Homo sapiens: one gene and its partners. The protein of the gene in region 2 interacts with the protein of the main gene of each other region in a biochemical or structural test. Each region holds a gene or a part of one and is shown on either strand. Other genes may lie near its edges.

Region 1 (4,154 bases), on a different chromosome or scaffold from region 2:
ATTTTAACTGCTCTTGTCTGTCTCATCTTGTTCTTTCCTGTCCCTTTAATAGGTAGCTAAGTATGATTTCACTTCACTAATTCAGACACAAATAATGTGAAAGATGGTATAATTCAGAGAACACCTGGGCTGTCCTTTATCTTTGCTTAGTAAACTGTTTTTTCCTTCAGGGACATGAAAGCTAACGTTAGCCTGGCACACATGATTCTGATTTCTGAATTGGTGGTGCTTGAATTAATGACATTTTTCTGAAGCAAAGGAAATTAAATAGTGCACTTTATTGTTCCACTGGCACATATTGTTACATATCCTGAGCAAACCTATTTTAGTGTATGTGTCGTGCTAAAGACTGAATACCAGCCAATGTCTGTAGCTATCTGATACGTGACTGTTTACTCCTCTATTGAATGGGGTTTATCATTTGTTTGGAGTAAGAGGATAGGCCTTGATTGAAACAATAAATATTTATGATAAAAGAAAACGAGTCCCTTTTTGACAGGGACCTAGGCTCAGGCATAAACTGACAATTAGACTCAAGTGGTGAATTAAATTAATGAATAGTTAGCCTTTATAATACAAATGCAAATAGAGCTCTAATTTCCAAGTTGGCTAGTTGTTTTTTTCTGCCTAATATTCCATTCTTTATAACTCAGTTTTAAATAATAGTTGCTTGAGGTATATTACTGTGTTGTGTCATTGTGAGTTTTATGCAGTTGGAAATTTTATAAGTTTGAGTTAATCTGTAATTTTAATAGTTTGTAAGTTTATTTTTTCTTGATTTTTGTTATTTTTCTTTAGGGATAAGAGAAGATCCTGATGTCTGCCTGAAAGCCCCATGAAGAAAAATAAAACACCTTGTACTTTATTTTCTATAATTTAAATATATGCTAAGTCTTATATATTGTAGATAATACAGTTCGGTGAGCTACAAATGCATTTCTAAAGCCATTGTAGTCCTGTAATGGAAGCATCTAGCATGTCGTCAAAGCTGAAATGGACTTTTGTACATAGTGAGGAGCTTTGAAACGAGGATTGGGAAAAAGTAATTCCGTAGGTTATTTTCAGTTATTATATTTACAAATGGGAAACAAAAGGATAATGAATACTTTATAAAGGATTAATGTCAATTCTTGCCAAATATAAATAAAAATAATCCTCAGTTTTTGTGAAAAGCTCCATTTTTAGTGAAATATTATTTTATAGCTACTAATTTTAAAATGTCTTGCTTGATTGTATGGTGGGAAGTTGGCTGGTGTCCCTTGTCTTTGCCAAGTTCTCCACTAGCTATGGTGTCATAGGCTCTTTTGGGATTTTTGAAGCTGTATACTGTGTGCTAAAACAAGCACTAAACAAAGAGTGAAGGATTTATGTTTAATTCTGAAAGCAACCTTCTTGCCTAGTGTTCTGATATTGGACAGTAAAATCCACAGACCAACCTGGAGTTGAAAATCTTATAATTTAAAATATGCTCTAAACATGTTTATCGTATTTGATGCTACAGGATTTGAAATTGTATTACAAATCCAATGAAATGAGTTTTTCTTTTCATTTACCTCTGCCCCAGTTGTTTCTACTACATGGAAGACCTCATTTTGAAGGGAAATTTCAGCAGCTGCAGCTCATGAGTAACTGATTTGTAACAAGCCTCCTTTTAAAGTAACCCTACAAAACCACTGGAAAGTTTATGGTTGTATTATTTTTTAAAAAAATTCCAAGTGATTGAAACCTACACGAGATACAGAATTTTATGCGGCATTTTCTTCTCACATTTATATTTTTGTGATTTTGTGATTGATTATATGTCACTTTGCTACAGGGCTCACAGAATTCATTCACTCAACAAACATAATAGGGCGCTGAGGGCATAGAAGTAAAAACACCTGGTCCCTGCTCTCAGTTCACTGTCTTGTTGGACGAGAAAACAATAACGATAAAAGACAGTGAAAGAAAATAACGATAAAAGACAGTGAAAGAAAATAACAATAAAAGACAAGGAAAAAATAACAATGAAAGTTGATAAGTACATGATAAGCGAGGTTCCCCGTGTGTAGGTAGATCTGGTCTTTAGAGGCAGATAGATAGGTCAGTGCAAATACTCTGGTCCATGGGCCATATGAAAAGGCTAAGCTTCACTGTAAAATAATAACTGGGAATTCTGGATTGTGTATGGGTGTTGGTGAACTTGGTTTTAATTAGTGAACTGCTGAGAGACAGAGCTATTCTCCATGTACTGGCAAGACCTGATTTCTGAGCATTTAATATGGATGCCGTGGGAGTACAAAAGTGGAGTGTGGCCTGAGTAATGCATTATGGGTGGTTTACCATTTCTTGAGGTAAAAGCATCACATGAACTTGTAAAGGAATTTAAAAATCCTACTTTCATAATAAGTTGCATAGGTTTAATAATTTTTAATTATATGGCTTGAGTTTAAATTGTAATAGGCGTAACTAATTTTAACTCTATAATGTGTTCATTCTGGAATAATCCTAAACATATGAATTATGTTTGCATGTTCACTTCCAAGAGCCTTTTTTTGAAAAAAAGCTTTTTTTGAATCATCAAGTCTTTCACATTTAAATAAAGTGTTTGAAAGCTTTATTTACCTAATTTGTCTTGAAATATTCCTTATAATTCCTTATAAAATATTCAGAGACTGATGCTATTAATAAACCAAATAAAGGATTGATGATTATCTTATCGGAGTGATTCCCTGGAAAAGGTAAGTGCTTTTCTGATTTTATTGCTGTCCAAGTTCCCGGTTGATGAGCCTACTTCCTGTCTTCTTTGGCTGGCCTTTTATTCATCAAGTTTTTTTTTTTTTTTTTCACCTTTTCTTTCCCAACATGAGCATCCTTGCTATTTTCCAGTACGTAATCACTTGCACCTTTACAGAAAGGTCATATCCTTGCTGTATCTAAAATATTGCCATGCTAACATATTGTAAGATGCTGAGTCAAGGTAGAAAAATGCACAATATATTTCCAAGTGTGCAGCTCTCTTCAGAAAAAAAAAAAGTGTGTCAGCAAGCCCAAAAGGAACATGACAGCTTATCAAATACTTATTCATTTCCTCTGAAATTTGTTCTTAAGAGATAAGGTCAGTAGGGAGACAAGCTTAGGTAATTGTCTGTTTGGCTGTTACAGGCAGGGAACCTTTGTGGTAGTGCACAGGTAGAATAAGTCTATAGAGAATGCCTCTGATTAAGTCCTCTGCTATAAATAAAGGGCTGGATTTAAGATATTCTTTCGGGTAGAATGGACACAGAATTAAAAATGTGAGAAACAGCTTTAAACTCTGTTAATAATGTTTCAACATCAGCTTATGTTTTATTTGATTCACTTCGTTAAGCTTAGAATCCAAAGTCTACTACTAGTAAAACCCAGATTTGCCCTTGAGCATTTCAAGGTTATAGGATGCCTGGTCTTCCTGTTAGGATGCTATACATTCAACTTTGACACCTATGTTTTCTCTTGCAGTAAATGGGATACCACTATTTTGTAGTTTGCAACTAGGGGGGAAGTTAAACTACCCAGTTTGGACATTTTCCTAATTTGGGGTGATTGGCCAAACTTGTAGTAAAAGGCTGAATTCTTATCATTAGGTCATTTAGTTCTTAAATGAAGATTTTTTTTTTAATGTAGCAAGATATAATAAGGCTGACTAACTGGATAGAGTCCATTAACATATATGGAATTGAGATATATATATACATCTTGGTTGCACACATACACGCAGAAATAGAACTGTTTTCTCACAAGATGACAAAAGGCTATACTACGTATCACATTCAGTATTGGACAGAGAGAGTAAAAGCAGGAATGCATAAGAACTGATTTTTTTTTCTTTTTCTTTTTTTAGTCACCTGGTGGGCCATTTAAACATTTTATTTATTTATTTTTTAATTTTTATTTTACTTTAAGTTCTGGGATGCATGCGCTGAATGTGCAGATTTGTTACATAGGTTACATGTGCCATGGTGGTTTGCTGCACCATCAACCCGTCATCTAAGTTTTAAGCTCTGCACGCATTAGGTATTTGTCCCAATGCTCTCCCTCCCCTTGCCGCCCACCGCCTGACAGGCCCCAGTGTGTGATGTTCCCCTCCCTGTGTCTATGTGTTCTCATTGTTCAACTCCCACTGTTTTTCATCTTTG
Region 2 (9,350 bases):
TAATACAACTGCCTGTGGCATTTGACACTTGAAATACTCTCTCCTCCTGGACGCCAGGATACCGTTCCCCCCGGGTTCTCTTCTCTCCTTCACTCAATGCATATTCGTTGAGTTCCTGCTAGGTGCCACAAAAGCTCTGTGCTAAGGACTGGGGATACAGAGATGAAAGGAAGTGTCTGCAACCGTGTTGCTTACAGTCTAGTGGGAAAGAAAATTTATGTCAATAAAAAATAAAGTAATGCAGGTGGTTTTACTTTCTGGTTGGGTACAGTGTGTTGGGCATGAGGCTTTCTGGTTTGAATACTGCCTCTGCTGCTTGCTAGTTGTGTGACCTAGGCAAACTACCTGCCAATCAATGAGAGTTAGGAGTTCTCCTTTATAATTTATTTCCTTGAAGATGGTTTTTGCACATAAAAATTTATTCATAGGCCATATTGCTTTTAAGAACTCATATTCAATTTATTAAATAAATAAATTTAAAACCTAAGTCAGCCTTAAGTTCAGTTCAGCTTACAAATCTTACTGTTCTGCTTACAAATTAGGCAAATTTTAACTACCCTTCTTGAGGACTATTAATAAGATTTAACTCATGGCCAGGCATGGTGGCTCACACCTGGAATCCTAGCACTTTGGGAGGCCGAGGCAAGTGGATCACTTCGAGCTCAGGAGTTCGAGACCAGCCTGAGCAACATGGCGAAACCCCATCTCTACAAGAAATACAAAAATGAGCCGGGCATGGTGGCTCATGACTGTGGTCCCAGCTACTCAGGAGGCTGAGGCTGGAGGATCGCTTGAGCAGGGAAGTAAAGGTTGTAGTGAGCCGAGATCGTACCACTGCACTTCAGCCTTGGTCACAGAGCAACATCCTGTCTCAAAAGTAAAATAATAATAATAATAATAATTTGACTCATTTTACAAATTTATAAGTTGATTCCCTTATTATTCTAACTTATAAATGTAATATATTTAGTTTTGTTTTAAAGTATTTTAATCAGCAAATAAACTTCCCAAATACTTAAAGGCTTGTAAACCTAATACATTAAACTTCTAAGTGTGGTCATTCTTAAGTTGTCTTAAATTATTCAATTCTTCATGTAAATTAAGATTTCCAACTAAAATCACAAATGCACAAATGTAAATCAATTGCATAGTTTAAATCAGAAACACAAATATCTCAGTTCATTCTGGCTGCTATAACAAAAATATCTTAAACTGGGCAATTTATAAGTAGTGGAAATTTATTTCTTATGGTTCTGCAAGCTGGGAAGTCCAAGATCAAGGTGCCAGCAGACTCTCGGTCTGGTTAGGGCTCACTCTGTGCTTCCAAGGTGGGGCCTTGTTGCTGCATCCTCCAGAGGAGATGAACACTGTCTTCACATGGCAGAATAGTGGAAGGGCAAGAAAGGGCCAGATAACTCTTTGAAGTCTCTTTTATAAGGGCATTAATCCCATATATGAAAGCAGAGTGCTCATGACTTAATCATTTCCCAAAAGGCCCCACCTCTCAATACTATCGCTTTGGGGTTTAAGTTCCAACATATAGGACAGGCACAGTGGCTCACACCTGTAATCCCAGCACTTTGGGAGGCCGAGGCAGGTGGATTACCTGTGGTTGGGAGTTCGAGACCAGCCTGGCCAACATAGTGAAACCCTGTCTCTACTAAAAATACAAAATTAGTCAGGTGTGGTGGCACGTGCCTGTAGTCCCAGCTACTCGGGAGTCTGAGGCAGGAGAATCACTTGAACCCAAGAGGCAAAGGTTGCAGTGAGCTGAGATTGCACCACTACACTCCAACCTGGGTGATAGAGTGAGACTCCATCTCATTAAAAAAAAAAAAGTTTCCAACATATGAATTTTGGAGGGACAAATACATTCAAACCGTGGCAACAAAGTTTACTACAATTTTAATGAACTAAATTTCCTCAAACAATACATATACTTAAAAAATACTAACTGATTACCTTGAACATGTCTATTTTGTATTCCTTATTTTCCCAGGATTGAAAGATTCATAACCACAAAAGAAACAATTATGTCATCCCATTTACAGCCATTTCCTGGGGTACCTTCTCAATTAGCTAAAGTTGCTTAATGACCAGAAATATCACTGACATGTTAACTAATGGTATTACCAGCACCCCTTTTTTTTTGAGGTGGAGTTTCGCTCTTGTTGCCCAGGCTGCAGTGCAATGGCACAATCTCGGCTCACCGCAACCTCCGCCTCCCAGGTTCAAGCGATTCTCCTTCCTCAGCCTCCCCAGTAGCTGGGATTACAGGCGCGTGCCACCACACCCGGCTAATTTTGTTTTTTTGTTTTTTGTTTTTTTTTTTTAGTAGAGACGGGGTTTCACCATGTTAGCCAGGATGGTCTCGATCTCCTGACATCGTGATCCGCCCGCCTCCGCCTCCCAATAATTTTGTATTTTTAATAGAGACAGGGTTTCTCCATATTGGTCAGGCTGGTCCTGAGCTCCTGACCTCACGTGATCTGCCCACCTCGGCCTCCCAAAGTGCTGAGATTACAGGCGTGAGCCAATGTGCCCAGCTGGCAGCACCACTTTTTGCTTGTTTTGTTGCTACCCTCTAAAAGGCTGGTCTCATAGCCTATATCCCTAGATTCCACTTGAACACTGTGACATTCCCTAATTCTTCCCTCTACTGTGGCTGCAGCAGTTGATTTGATGTTGAATTTCTTTAGCTCCTAACATATATTTGTCTTTCCATCTAAGTGTAAAAAGCTTTGAGCTTGTCAAAATTCTACAGTCTTTCATATTCTTCCAATCTGTAGTAGCATATATATACTGCAAGTCAAGACAACATTAGAAATAAAGTCCAAAAAATGCAATTGTGTAAAATGCAGGGTCGTCTTAATTGCACAGTGAATGAAGTGTTGGTTGGGGGCTGGTGGTGAAGCAACACAGCTGAGTATGTGGTTGTGGCTGCCAGACCCAAATCTCAACCCAGGCTGGAGTCTGATGCTACCTGGAGGCAATGCCCAGTTGACAGGGGTGATTCTGGGCCTGTAGCTGGCGGGACTCCAAGGACAGTAGCAGGGATTTCAAAAATTTTCCAGTCAGTCACACCCACTTGCTGGGGTGGTTGAAGTATACTGAGAAGGACAACACTGGAGACGCCGGGGCCAGCATCACTGGATGTTGCTCCCTGATTCCCAATGCTAGTGCCTTTGCCTCCCTGTCCTGATGAGAATATTAGCCCTCCCCATGTGAGGACAGGGCACACTTAACAAATGCATCATACCAAAATTTATATTAATTTAGGTTTTACTATACTTAAATGATAATACTTAAATTGGATTTTGTGTATTATAAGGCTGTGTCCTCCTATGGTCACAACTTCAAAGGAGGTCATTTCAGTGATGTTACTTTCCTAAATCTCAGTTTTCTCATCTCTAAAATGGGGATAATTGGAGTATCATCCAAATAGGGTCTATCTTAGGATTAAAGGAGAAAACATATGTAAAGTTCTAAACACAGAGGCTCACTCATAGTAATTACCCAATAAATGTTAGTAATGATTTTTATTATTACCAATCTCTCTGAATTCCCTTCTGCCTTTGCCCTCGCCTCCCATGCAGACTGTTCCTGCTCTCATGTTCTGTACCCAGACTCCTTCAATAGCTTCCGCACCTGTCTTCTCATCCCCAGGCTCATCCCTTCCACCCATTCTCCCTCCACTCTGCAGCTCCAGGAAGCTTCCTACTCCTACTGGATTCTTGTTGCCTTTAGCTTGGTAACAGGATGCTTTATCTGGGCTCTGGTAACCTCTCCTGACCGTATGTCCTGCAATCCCCTCTAGACAGCCCATGTTCTAGTCACAGGACCAAGGCTAGAGTGAAACAAGACACGCTCCTAGTGCACAAAATTTAAAGATTTTCGAGATTCTGTCACTTTCAATATTGTGCAACATCAGATCATGACCAGCCTCTAAAGATGCTTTCCATGGACATAAGCCTGTTATCTTAATGGTTTCTCTCTCTCTCTCCCTTCTTCCTTTGAACCCAGACTTCCTGGGTTCAAGTCCTTACTAACTATAAAACTTATAGTAAGCTATTTAACCCCTCTCCACCTCAGTTTTCTCATTTATAGAATGGGGATGATAAAAGATATCTCATAAAACTATTGTAAGATCAAATGAGTGAATATGTTAAAGTGTCAGAAGATGGACTAGCACTCTGTAAGCTTTCATCGAATATTAGCTAAAACTACACATTCTGCCAGCCTCAAGTTTTCCTGCCAAGTCCCCTTAATGTTACAGCCTAAGTAAACAAATGACCTGAAGCCCGAAACACAAACCATAGCATGGCCAGCTATTACGCTACTGACAAGAAGAAGGAGGAGAAAAAGACAGTTTCCCAAGTCAGGATATAGGGAATCATGCCATTCTCCAGCCTACCTTTTCAACTCAGTCACCTCTACGCTGTCACATACGATGTCCACCCCCATTGCAGTCTCCCTGATGCCTTTGTCCATATTAAAAGTCCTTCATTGCATGTGACAGAAAGCTAGCACAAACTGCCTTGAGCAAAATAGAAAATGTATTGGGTCACTGTATTAGTTATCTGTTGCTGTGTAACAAATTGCCCCAAACTTCACAGCTAAAAACAATAAGCATTTTTGATGAAAAATAAAAAATTGAAAAAAAATTTAAAAACCAAACATTTATTATCTCACAGTTTCTCTTGATAAGGAATCTGGGCATGGCTTAGCTGGGTGCCTCTGGCTTAAGGTACTCACACAACTAACATCACGGTGTCAGCCAGGGCTGCAGTCATTTCAAGGACCTCCTGGGGAGGATCCACTTCCAGTCTCACTCATGTGATTCTTGGCTAGCCTCAGTCCTCATGGACAGTTGGCCAGAGGAATCAGCTCCTCGCCGATTGTTGGCTGGGGGCCTCCCTCTGTTCTTTGTTTTGGAACCCTCTCCCTAAAGTATCTCACAAAACAATACCTGGCTCCCCTCAGTGTAAGGTAGGGAGACAGAGATAGTGGGAAAGACAGAGAGGGAGAGAGGGCAAGAGAAAGAGAGAGCGCATATGCACACACATGCTAACCCAAGATGGAAGTCACAGCTTTTTTGTAACCTAATCTCAGAAGTGACCCATCCCACATCTCTGCCACATTCTATTCACTTGAAGCAAGTCACTAAATCCAGGCCACACTAAAGAAGAGGTGATTACACAGAGGCATGAATGCCAGGAGGTACAGATCTTTAGCAGTCACCTTTAGGAGCCAAATTTAGAACCCAAGTCCCTTGATGTCAAAGCAAGTGATGCTCCACATCAGTCACAAATGAGGCCCTGAATAGACTTGGGACCTCTACCTGCCTGCGCAGATGGGAGGAGTCTGTGGTGTTTTGTATAAACAACCCTCCCTCTGAGACACACACACATACACATACACATGCACACACACACTCATATACACATGCAGAAGCTGTGACACGTGCGGAAGCTGTGGTAAGTGCATCCTCCTTCAGTCTCAGTTCTGAAAATAGATCATCATGGTGGCACCAAAGAGTCACACAGATGACTGGGCTCCTGGGCCTTTCTCCAGTAAGCCACAGAGGAGTCAGCTGCAAATATTCTCTTCTGTTCTACAGACCTCTCTCCTCTTCCTGCTCATGGGTAAGTCCACTTTATGGCCACCACTTCTTGCTACTGCGGTTCTTCTGAGGCCAGTTGCATTCCCTGCCTGGGAGATTCTTTTTTTTGTTTTTTGTTTTTTTTAACGGAGTCTCACTCTGTTGCCAGGCTGGAGTGAAGTGGCGCAATCTCGGCTCACTGCAACCTCCACCTCCTGGGTTCAAGCGATTCTCCTACCTCAGCCTCTTGAGTAGCTGGGATTACAGGTGCATGCCAACACACCCAGCTAATCTTTGTATTTTTAGTAGGGGCAGGGTTTCACTATGTTGGCCACGGTGGTCTCGATCTCTTGACCTCGTGATCTGCCCAGCTCAGCCACCTGAAGTGCTGGGATTACAGGCGTGAGCCCAGTTCTTGTTGGTAAAATCGGGAAACTCATCTCCTTGCCAGAAATTACTTTGCATGTGTGCATATTCGTGCACTATGAAGGGGGTAACATTCTAGCCCCGGTCTCAAATAGCTCTGGGCTCAAACTACATTTCTCTTGCCCTCACATTTTCCTAAGAAATGCCAAGTATATAATGAGTTTGTTCCCTGTATGGTGTGGATAAAACCCACAGAGGGATCCAGGAAAATCCCCTGATGAGAAGCCACCTAGCAATTTCCTAGGGATGGAGAGAACTTCTGGAGCTTCTTTCTATGTATCCTGCCTTGGTTATCATATATGCTGGCTTTATTACTGAGGTTTCACTGGGGACCTGGACGCGGTTAGGTGACCATGGGCAAGGTGGCGTTTATCTGGATATCCTTTTCTCCTCAACCTTATTCCTCCCTATCAAGGCCCAACTCCTGGGAAACATCTCTCCGCTGCATGGCCCGGAACCCCACTGTCCAGCAGATAGAGCCAATCCAGTACCCCAGAGAGGATCTCAGCCACCTGGGACTGTGGCAGCTACTGTCCTTCTGTGCTCCCGCTTTCTCCAGGGCTTCAGGGATGATGGTGCAGGTAGCACTAGAGATCTGAGAGCAGTGGGGGTTGGCAGTTGGTGCCTGAAGGGAGCTTTAGAAACACTCCTAGATGCAGATATGGGTGAACGAGGAGCCTAGACCTCAGAGCTGAGGTCCAGTCTGACCTCTTTTCACTTTCAATTTTATCTTGGCTCATCAAAACACACAGAAAGCAGCAAGGCTGTTTATGTTTACCTCCAACCTTTGGGGTGTTCCTTGATTGTGTTGAGCAAACCTGAAATAAGCTACATTCAAGGTCATCCAAGCCGCAAATGATCAATGCAGTGAATTTCAAACAGTTCAGAGCAAAGAGGCATCTCCATTGGTCTGGCTCCACTGATTAGGATGACCTCAAATCTCACTCTTTTGGTCTGAAAGGATGATGCTTTTGTATCTCCAAAGAGTCATTTCAGGAACTTAAAAGGCAGTCGAGTGAAAAGACCCCTCTCACTTTAGTATCAGGAACATCTGAAATTAAATCATTGCTCCATCATTTATTAGTGATGAGGGCCTCTATTTCTTAAGTGTAAAATATAGTTAGTAGGATGCATCATGCAACACTCTTACAGATTGTAGATGATCTATACACACACACACACACACACACACACACGTATAGTGGCACATAGTTGGCAGAAGCTATGATTGTTATTATTATAATTACTGTTACGTGCATTCTTTGGAAACTATTAAGAGACAGGTGAGTCAAATTCAGTTTTGCAATCTTTGAATGCTCTTTTATTATTTGTCCTACGGTGCAATTCAAAATAAAATGACTGGTACTGGGGACCTGTCATTGTACTGGGAGCTGCATTGCACTGTCTTCTGCAACAAGATTTGCCCTGTGAGGCCCACATCCTGCCCCCTCCACTGAGAGTCTGTGAGGCTTTTGTTTATGGTTTTTGTCTGATGTAAGAAAATTTGAAGTCAAAACGAGTCATATGCACCCAGTCAAGACCCAGCAGCTCCTGGGCTTCCAGGATACAGATGGGCAGTACTCCTGGCCTCCCTACTCCAGGGGCATCATGGACATAGGATCTGGACTCTGTGACTGATCAACCCTGTAATCTCAGGGAAGTGGATTAAATTCTCTAAATTTCAGCTCCTCATCTGTAAAAAGGGGCTAATTATAGTATAGTTATGAGAATTAAATGAGATAATTTACATAAAGTACCTAATGCACACATAGCAATCGTAAGCAGTCTCTTCCAGATGGGAAGAGCTCTCTTTTAGAAAACCTCAAACCAACCTCACATCAACTCAGCCTGAATCTGCCTAAAGAATCCACCTGACCCAACCTTCTCATGTCCAGGATCCCTAGCCCTGCATGCTCCATAGCTGCCTCTCCACAAGGTGCAAGTGCTTGGCTGATGGAGGTCTAAGCAGAGAACCCCCATGACCTGCACCAAGCAGCCTCTCTCCTTCCAGTGTCTGCATATTCTGTATCCTCTGGGTTTTCAGAGCTTGCTTCAGCTTTCTTCCGCCCCTCCAGGCTATGCTTATGCTCCTTTTTTGTCTCTAACATTTTCTACTTATTTTCCCACCCAGAATTCCTGGTGGAGTCTGGGTCCCAAACCCATCTGTTTTGGTCTAGAATTTCAAAAGTGCTCTCCAGAGCCTCGGAAGCCCTGGAATCTGGGAATCCAAGCTAGGGTCACCCAGAAGACACCCACAGGGTCCCTACAAGAAAATTAACTGCCTTGGCCAAATACCAGCTTCCTAGATGCCTTGGTAACAATGTTTATCAGGAATATGATCTTGCCTAAGATGAGGAAATCAGGAACTGTATTAGTACCACCAGCTATTCCCACCCCCAAACCTGGCCAAACCAAAGTCAATCTGAGATGCCATGGACAATAAGGGTGAGGTAGAGGTAGGAGAAGCTCCTTTAGTTCCCGACACTGCTATGAGAGTTCTCAAACATTCAGAAAAGTTGGAGCATTTACCCTGAACATTCATAGGCCTACTACCTAGATTCTAACACAAACGTTTTACTTTGCTTGCTTTATCACTCGCCTGCCCATCTAACCATCCCTCTACCCACCCATATTTTTAAAAATATGCTCCTTTTTACTTCATTGGCTCTTCACAATTTGCAGCAACCTGCTTTCATTTCATTTTTACCATATCCCTTGAAGAAAATGGTGCAGGTATGAGCATTTCAATCTTTTAGATAAGATTCACTGAAAAATTCAGAAATGTACCCAAAGTCACAAGGCTAATTCCTCTACTGGAACAGAAACCCAGAAGATCTGTTTCACAGATTGTTGTGGCTGCTTTTAAGGGAGACAGTGTTTGGGGAATGGAGGAATTAATGACTGTGCTAGGCAATTGACCTAGAAGAAGGAGGACAAGAATCTCATTTCATTTCTCAGCATCTGACATTTATGCCCAATGTATATTCACAGAGTGAAAGAAAGAAGGCTAGCTCAAGGAGTCTAGCTGCTCCTCCAAGTCCCTCTTCTATCTCTGCAGGACTAAGAGCCTCTGGAAAGGACTCAGCCCCAACAGTGGTGTCAGGGATCCTAGGGGGTTCCGTGACTCTCCCCCTAAACATCTCAGTAGACACAGAGATTGAGAACGTCATCTGGATTGGTCCCAAAAATGCTCTTGCTTTCGCACGTCCCAAAGAAAATGTAACCATTATGGTCAAAAGCTACCTGGGCCGACTAGACATCACCAAGTGGAGTTACTCCCTGTGCATCAGCAATCTGACTCTGAATGATGCAGGATCCTACA
Region 3 (8,056 bases), on a different chromosome or scaffold from region 2:
TGGGCCCCAGCAGCACTCCCTCCCAGGCCCCCTCTGGTGGGCAAGGGGACAACGGCCGGAGTCTCCACCTGATGGTTTGGGCAAGTGTGCCTGGAGTCTCAGGAACTGAGAGCAGCCTCACCAGGGAGGGGCCTTTGTGCTCAGGAAAGAGAACAGGATTTGACTATGTAAATGGACTTGAGCGGGGGTTGGACATCAAAAGACAGGGCTACAGTTCAGTGCCACCCATGTGACTTAGGAGTGCACATTCTGCGCACACCCAGCAAACCCTGCATTTCCTCGAGAGAGGTCAGCCCCGTCACCTACCACTGGGCAGGAAAGCTTTGATCTCACCTCAGCAGCTTGGAAAGCCCTGCTTGACAGGGAGCCTGGGCTCCATCTCGGGGCACAGACAGTTGCAGTGGGAAGACTCCAGCAGGTGGCTGCCTGGTTTGGGTCCAACTCTGCCGTCTTTCAGCCAGGGGCTCTTCTAAGTAGAGCCTATGTTGTCCCCACCTGGTCCCCACTCAAATCCCCCGGCAGAGTTGGCCCTGCTCCGGGGGGAGTCTGTGGGTGCCTCCAGGGGACGTTGGGTACATCGTGGGTGGGAGACATTAAGAGCTGTCAGGCTCATGCCCTCTCCTGCCACGCAGGGGCCAGCACACCTGGCAGGGCCTTATGCTGCAAAGAAGAGATGCCTTGGGAATGGGGTCAGTCAATGCAAGGGTCCATGGGTTGGCCGAGCCGGCATCCCCTTGTGCAATCTGCACAGGCAAAGCTGATCAAAGGCCCAATGTCAGTATATAGGCTGCCCTCTCTGCAGGAGCAGCTGGGGCCCGGGATCAGGCCTAGAGTGGCCGGCTCAGCTGTCTGCCATCCAGCCTGGAGTTGCGCAGGAGGGCGGCGTTCCCAGCCAACCACTCCAGAGAGAGGGGGCTTCCCTCATGGGGGAGGCGAAGGCACGTGGCTGCCTTTGGCTCAGAACCCAGTGCCTGGTCTGGCCACAGCTGACAGTGTGGTTTTGGTTTCCCTCCACATGTGGCCTTCCACAGGCCACCCAGGCACCATGGCAGGGTCTTGCTTACCCCTTCCCAGGGGCAGTGTAGACAGTGCACCGGACAGACCTGGCTTCACCAGCAGAAGGTTGTTACCAACCTGCTCCGCCTAATAACAGCAGGCAACTTCCAAAGAGCTCTGTGCCAGGCACCATTCTAGGCTTATATTGACTCATTTGATGTCCACGAAGACCTTCAAAGGAGGTCTTATTATCTCCACTTTACAGATGGGGAAACCGAGGTGCAGAGCGGTTTATGGAACAGGCCTAGTTTACAGGACTAACAAATAAAAGGGCCAGGATTGCATGCATGATCTTCCTGGAAGCGAGAAACAGAGACCATAAGGTGGCCTGTGTGGGGCGGGGCAGAGCCTGGAGAGGGAACTTCTCGTGATGGAGCCGCAGAGAAGGGACTTGGGAGGGCGAAACTCCTAATCTCAGAGAGTCCAACAGAGTTGGAAAGCTGTGGTGTGAGCGGGTGGCTAAGTCTCCCTTTCGAAGCTTCAGTAAAATAGACACTGTTAATTGTTTTTGTGCAAATGCAATAAGGCACTATTTTTCATATCTGATATTGACAGTCAGTGGGAAAAAATGCTGGCCCAGGTCGTAGCCAGAGCTACTGACATCTGGCTCACACCAGAAAGCCGGCCAAGGGGCTTTATCCAAGGCTGACTGTGCCGGGTTTTCTCTCTGCATGCAAGACCAGGAAGGGGTATGTGCCCTGGAAGGCCTATGTATTTCACTCACTAACTGTATCTTCCATGTGAAGTGACGCAGAGCAAGCATGTTAAAATGGAGTCTCCAGGTTTTCTGTGCCTACGCTCAGCCCCCGTGAAAAGTCCTTTCGGGTCCAGAGATTAGGCTCCAGCTTTGATGCTTTGCATGTTTGTCTACCTGGTAGGTTAAATTCATAAATTCATGAACACAATCAGCACTTCTTGGGTTTTTTTTTTTTTTTTTTTTGACAGAGTCTTGCTCTGTCGCCAAGGCTGGAGTGCAGTGGTGCAATCTTGGTTCACTGCAACCTCCGCCTCCCAGGATTAAGCAATTCTCCTACTTCAGCCCTCCAAGCAGCTGGGATTACAGGTGCCTGCCACCACACCGGGCTAATTTTTTTTTTGTGTTATCCTCAGGTGATCTGGCCTCTTTAGCCTCCCAAAGTGCTGAGATTACAGGCATGAACCACTGCACCCAGCCTTTTTCTTTCTTTCTTTCCTTCTTTCTTTCTTTCTTTCTTTCTTTCTTTCTTTCTTTCTTTCTTTCTTTCTTTCTTTCTTTCTTTCTTTCTTTTTTTTTTTTTGAGACAGAGTCTCGCTCTGTCGCCCAGGCTAAAGTGCCATAGCATGATCTTGGCTCACTGCAACCTCCACCTCCAGGATTCAAGCAATTCTTCTGCCTCAGCCTCCTGAGTAGCTGGGATTACAGGTACCCACCACCATACCTGGCTAATTTTTGTATTTTTAGTAGCGATGGGGTTTCACCATGTTGGCTAGGCTGGTCTCAAACTCCTGACCTCGTGATCCACCTGCCTCGGCCTCCCAAAGTGCTGGGATTACAGGTGTGAGCCACCGCACCTGGCCTTTTTTTAAAATTATTATTATTTTATTTTTTATTTTTGAGACACGGTCTTTCGCTGTTGCCCAGGTTGGAGTGCAGTGGCACAATCACAGCTCACTGCAGCCTTGCTTGATCAAGCGATCCTCCTGCCTCAGTTTCCCGAGTAGCTGGTATTCCAGGTGCAAGTCACCAAGCCTGGCTAATCTTTTTTATGTAGAGACAGGGTTTTGCTATGTTGCCCAGGCTGGCCCCCAACTCCTGGAGTCAGGTGGTTCTCCCACCTTGGCCTCCCGAAGTGCTGGCATTACAAGTGTGAGCCGCTGCACGCAGCCTCACATCAGCACCTCTCAATCAATTGGTGCCATCTCCCTGCACATGAACCCTTGCGTCATGATGACATGTGGTCCTCACAGCCAGGCATTTCTCCCCACCCCAGACATAGAGTGAGAGGAGCTCTGCTCTTCCCTCAATAATTCGTGCCATGCTGTGCACTCCTGAGGAGCAAGGCTCTGTGGTCTGCTGGCTCTGCTGGGCTGCATTTGCAAAATGCTAACCTTCCTGTGTCAACCCAGCATCTTCACAGGTGGAATGAGGATGACAAGGCCAAAGCCCACTCGTTGGGTTATTTTTTCAAATTGAGGTATAATTCATATTCCATACAGTCACCCTTTCTATGGTGTACAATTCTTAATTTTCTTTTTTTCCAAGACAGTCTTGCTCTGTTGCCCAGGCTGGAGTGCAGTGGCATGATCTCGGCGCACTGCAACCTCTGTCTCCCGGGTTGAAGTGATTCTCCTGCCTCAGGCTCCTGAGTAGCTGGGATTACAGGCGCATGCCACCATGCCCGGCTAATTTTTTTTTTTCTTTTTGAGACAGAGTCTCATCTCACCCCTGTTGCCCAGGCTGGAATGCAATGGTGTGTTCTTGGCTCACTGTAACCTCCGCTTCCTGAATTCAAGCAATCCTCTGCCTCAGCTTCCCAAATAGCTGGGATTACAGGTGCCTCCCATCACACCCAGCTAATTTTTGTATTTTTAGTAGAGACGAGGTTTCACCATGTTGGCTAGGCTGGTCCCGAACTCCTGACCTCAGGTGATCTGCCCGCCTAGGCCTCCCAAAGTGCTGGGATTACAGGCGTGAGCCACTGCACCTGGCCCTGGTATACAATTCTTTATCGTGCTTTTAGTGCATTCACAATGTTGTGAAACCAACACCACTGTCTGATTCCAGGACATTCTCAATACCTCGAAAAGAAAAGAAACCCTGTACCCACAGCAGTCACTCCCTATTCCCTCTCCACCCAAACCCTGGCAGCAACTAAATGACTTTTTGTCTATGGATTTATCTTTTCCGGATGTTTCATAACTGGAAACATACAACATGTGGACTTTGGGGCCAGCTTCTTTCACTGAGCACAATGCTGTCAAGCTTCATCTGTGTTGTGGCATGAATCACTCCTCTCCAGGGCTGACTAATGAGCCACTGTATTGAAAGAACCACATTTTGTTTATCCATTCATCAGTTGACAGGCATTTGGGTTGTTTCCACTTTTGGGCTATAATGAATAATGCTGTGATGAACATTCATATACAAGGTTTTGTGCAAACATATATTTTCAATATTCTTGGGTCTATATCTAGGAGCAGAATTGCTGGGTCATTTAAGTCTAACACTTTGAGGAACAGCTAAACTGTTTTCCTTGGTGGATCCACCATTTTGCATTCCTACTAGCAACATCTGAGGGTTCCAATGTCTCCACTTCCCTACCAGCACTTGTTATTATCTTTTTTATTATAGCCATCCTAGTGGGTGTGAAGTGATGTCTTATTGTGGTTTTAATTTGCATTTCTCTAATGGCTAATGATGCCAAACGTCTTTTCTCATGGTTAATGGCCATTTGTATTTGGAGAAAAGTCAATTCAGATCCTTTGTACATTTAGAAAACAGGGTTGTTTGTCTTTTCCTTGTTTCCTTGGGTTATCAAGAGGACAAAATGGAAAGATGTGAGTGACATTTACAGCCCAAGTCCAGGCATGTGGTAAGCACCCACCGAATGCTTTGCACACATAAAAATCATGCTGGTGCTGGGCAAGGTGGCTCATGCCTGTAATCCCAGCACTTTGGGAGGCCGAGGTGGGTGGATCACCTGAGGTCGGGAGTTCAAGACCAGCATGACCAACATGGAGAAACCCCATCTTTACTAAAAATACAAAATTAGCCTGCGATGGTGGCATATGCCTGTAATCCCAGCTACTCGAGAGGCTGAGGCAGCAGAATTGCTTGAACTTGGGAGGCAGAGGTTGTGGTGAGCCGAGATGGCACCCTTGCACTCCAGCCTGGGCAACAAGAGTGAAACTCTGTCTCAAAAAAAAAAAAAAAAATCATGCTGGTGATCAGGTGTGGTGGCTCACACCTGTAATCCCAGTACTTTGGGAGGCTGAGGCAAGAGGATCATGAGGTCAGGAGTTTGAGACCAGCCTGGCCAACACAGTGAAACCCTGTCTCTACTAAAAATACGAAAAATTTAGCTGGGCATGGTGGCGGGTGCCTGTAATCCCAGCTACTTGGGAGGCTGAGGCAGGAGAATTGCTTGAACCCAGGAGGTGGAGGTTGCAGTGAGCCGAGATCGTGCCATTGCACTCCAGCCTGGGCGACAGAGCTAGAATCCGTCTAAAAAAAAAAATCGTGCTGGCAATTAGTCTTTATGAGCTAAAAGTGACTAGTGACATCTCAGAAGCAGAGGAGTACAGGACCCATCTGTGAAGAACATTCCATACAGAGGAGAGAAGAGAATGGGGGCAGAGGATTGCTTAGGAAACTTCCTGGAGGCCTCTGGGGGATGCTGAGTTGTCACTTGAGGCCTCCTTGGAGGAAGCACTCAGAGAGATGGAAGCAGGAAGAGGACTGAGTGATGCCCCTGTGACGGAGGCTGCTGGGGACAGGGCTGGGAGCCTGGAAGCCAGCAGGAGGAAGGGATGGGGGCACAGAGGCACACAGAGTGAAACCAGGGGCAATGAACATGACATCAGGAAGAAAGGCAGGCATCTGAAGACCACTGGGCTCCAATTGAGGGGGTGGGTGCAGAGGGTACTGAAGTCCTGGGGCTGAGGACGATGGAAGGAGCACAGCATGTTCCATGACGGGGGTACTCAGGCTTGACAGGTGCGGCAGCACGTGGGGACCAGATTCTCTCCCCTGCTCACTTCAGGCTCCTGTTGTCCCCTTTCATTAGGAAAACACGATATTAACAAGTGCAGGCCCCTAACAGTTTGGGTTCAATACTTACTGTAAACAACCCCACGGAGGGCTGTCCCCGAGAGATCATTTGGGACCTCCCCGGAGCAGAGAGGCTTGCTGGACCACACAGCTGTCAGTGGCAATGGAGAAACAAATAGATCTGATAAACAGCAATGTCCTGTTCTTTAGAGTCACTTTAAAAAATGGTATTTATACAAAGCACAGAAAGTACAAAGCAAAAAGCAGAAAAGTAACCACCCCATCACTGAGACACTAGAATAACCATTGTTAATTCACTGGTGTATCTTCTTCTTCTCTCTACCTCCCTGTATGTATGTAATTTCCATTTTGTATATACATGTATTACATGTATATGTATAATTTTAGTCTGAGATTTCTAGCAGCATTAGCATTTTCCCATTTAGTTAGAATTTCTTCCTAAATATCATATTTTAATTTTAGTCTGAGATTTCTAGCAGCATTAGCATTTTCCCATTTAGTTAGGTTTTCTTCCTAATGATCATATTTAATGGATGTACAGGATTCTATTACATGATGTGCGACACTTCATGAAATGATTCTTCTATTATCAGATATTTAAGTTATCAACAGCATTTTGTTGTTATAAATATGACTGATGAAGGTCTTTTGCAGAAATGTTATAAACATGTCTGGTTATAGATTCCGAGGAGTGGAATTACTAGATCGAGGGACAGGAATGTTTTTAAGGCTCTTGATACAGAATGATACATTGCTTTCCAGAAATTTTTTTCCATATATGCACCAGTAAGCTGTACAAGAGAGTGCCCGCCTCATTCTAACCTTCCTATTCTGAATATTTTCATTTCAAAACACAATACATTGCAAGGTGAAGGTGGTGAATGTTCATTTTGATTTGCATTTGATTGTGGTCACGTTGAGCTTATTTGATAGAGTTATTGACCCTCATAATCCCTCTTTCGTGAATGGTCTGTTCAATTCTCTTTGCCATTTTTCTATCGAAGCTATAGTTTTTCTGTTATCTACTTGCACAAGTTTATATCACACTTGTTGCAAATATTTTCATTGTGATTTTCCTTTAAGTTTTATGATTTTTTTTTGACATTCAGGGACTGTAAATTTTTATATAGTGAAGTCTCTCAGTCTTTTCCTTTTTTCTCCCTTCGCTTTTCAATGCAGAGAATCCCTCTGCACACAGAAATTCACTTGTTTCTTCTTGTACAAGGCAGGTGGGTTATGACAGAGACTTTGGAGCTAATAGACTTGGGCTAAGGATTCAGCAGGTTTTTTTTTTTTTTTCGAGATGGTGTCTCTGTCTGTCACCCAGGCTGGAGTGCAATGGTGTGATCTTGGCTCACTGCAAACTTCTGCCTCCCCAGTTCAAGTGATTCTTCTGCCTCAGTCTCCCGAGTAGCTGGGATTACAGGCTCCCGCCACCATGCCCAGCTAATTTTTGTATTTTTTAGTAGAGACGGGGTCTCACCATATTGGCCAGGCTGCTTTCAAACTCCTGACCTTGTGGTCCGCTCGCCTCGGCCTCCCAAAGTGCTGGGATTACAGGCGTGAGCCACCGCGCCCGGCCAGGATCCAGCAGTTTATTTAATTCCACTGGGCCCTGGTTCCCCTTTCGAAAACCAGTGCTAAGAATACCTATGTGGTAATGTTGTGGGGCAGATTGGATGGAAAATATGTATCATGTTTTTAGCACAGTACTTGGTAAAAACAAATGAAGCAGTTATGGGTTTTTTACTTTTGTTTTTGTTTGTTTGTTTTACATTGAACCATTTAATCTCTCTGGAATTAATTTAACAAATGATGCAGGATACAGATTTAGGCTGGGCACAGTGGCTCACACCTGTAATTGCAGCACTTTGGGAGGCCGAGGCGGCCGGATCACCAGAGGTCAGGAGATCAAGACCATCCTGGCTAACATAGTGAAATCCTGTCTCTACTAAAGATACAAAAAAAATAAAAATAAAAATTAGCTTGCCGTGGTGGTGTGTGCCTATAGTTCCAGCTACCTGGGAGGCTGAGGTGGGAGAATTGTTAGAACCCAGGAGGCAGAGGTTGCAGTGAGCCAAGATTGTGCCTCTCTACACTCCAGCTTGGGCCACAGAGTGAGTCTCTGCCTCAAAAAAAGGAAAAAAAAAAAGATTTATGTGTATTTTTCTCAGCTAATCATCTTTCCCAAAACCTCTTACTGAATAACATTCCTTTACCCTTTGGGGT

Evidence for each region. The genes of interacting proteins can lie anywhere in the genome.
Region 1: the proteins of LY9 (region 2) and SH2D1A interact in a biophysical measurement, tested with the Homo sapiens proteins (one study listed by IntAct).
Region 3: the proteins of LY9 (region 2) and INPP5D interact in a biophysical measurement, tested with the Homo sapiens proteins (one study listed by IntAct).

What each region holds. Positions count from the first base shown.
Region 1 is NC_000023.11:124,370,553-124,374,706, forward strand, and holds the end of SH2D1A (SH2 domain-containing protein 1A), read left to right. Parts: intron 1-798; coding exon 799-839; 3' UTR 840-2,608; downstream 2,609-4,154.
Region 2 is NC_000001.11:160,790,667-160,800,016, forward strand, and holds the start of LY9 (T-lymphocyte surface antigen Ly-9 isoform a precursor), read left to right. Parts: upstream 1-5,507; 5' UTR 5,508-5,521; coding exon 5,522-5,645; intron 5,646-6,443; coding exon of another isoform or gene 6,444-6,609; intron 6,610-9,019; coding exon of another isoform or gene 9,020-9,086; coding exon 9,087-9,350. UniProt on the Homo sapiens protein: Self-ligand receptor of the signaling lymphocytic activation molecule (SLAM) family.
Region 3 is NC_000002.12:233,063,332-233,071,387, forward strand, and holds part of INPP5D (phosphatidylinositol 3,4,5-trisphosphate 5-phosphatase 1), read left to right. Parts: intron 1-8,056. UniProt on the Homo sapiens protein: Phosphatidylinositol (PtdIns) phosphatase that specifically hydrolyzes the 5-phosphate of phosphatidylinositol-3,4,5-trisphosphate (PtdIns(3,4,5)P3) to produce PtdIns(3,4)P2, thereby negatively regulating the PI3K (phosphoinositide 3-kinase) pathways.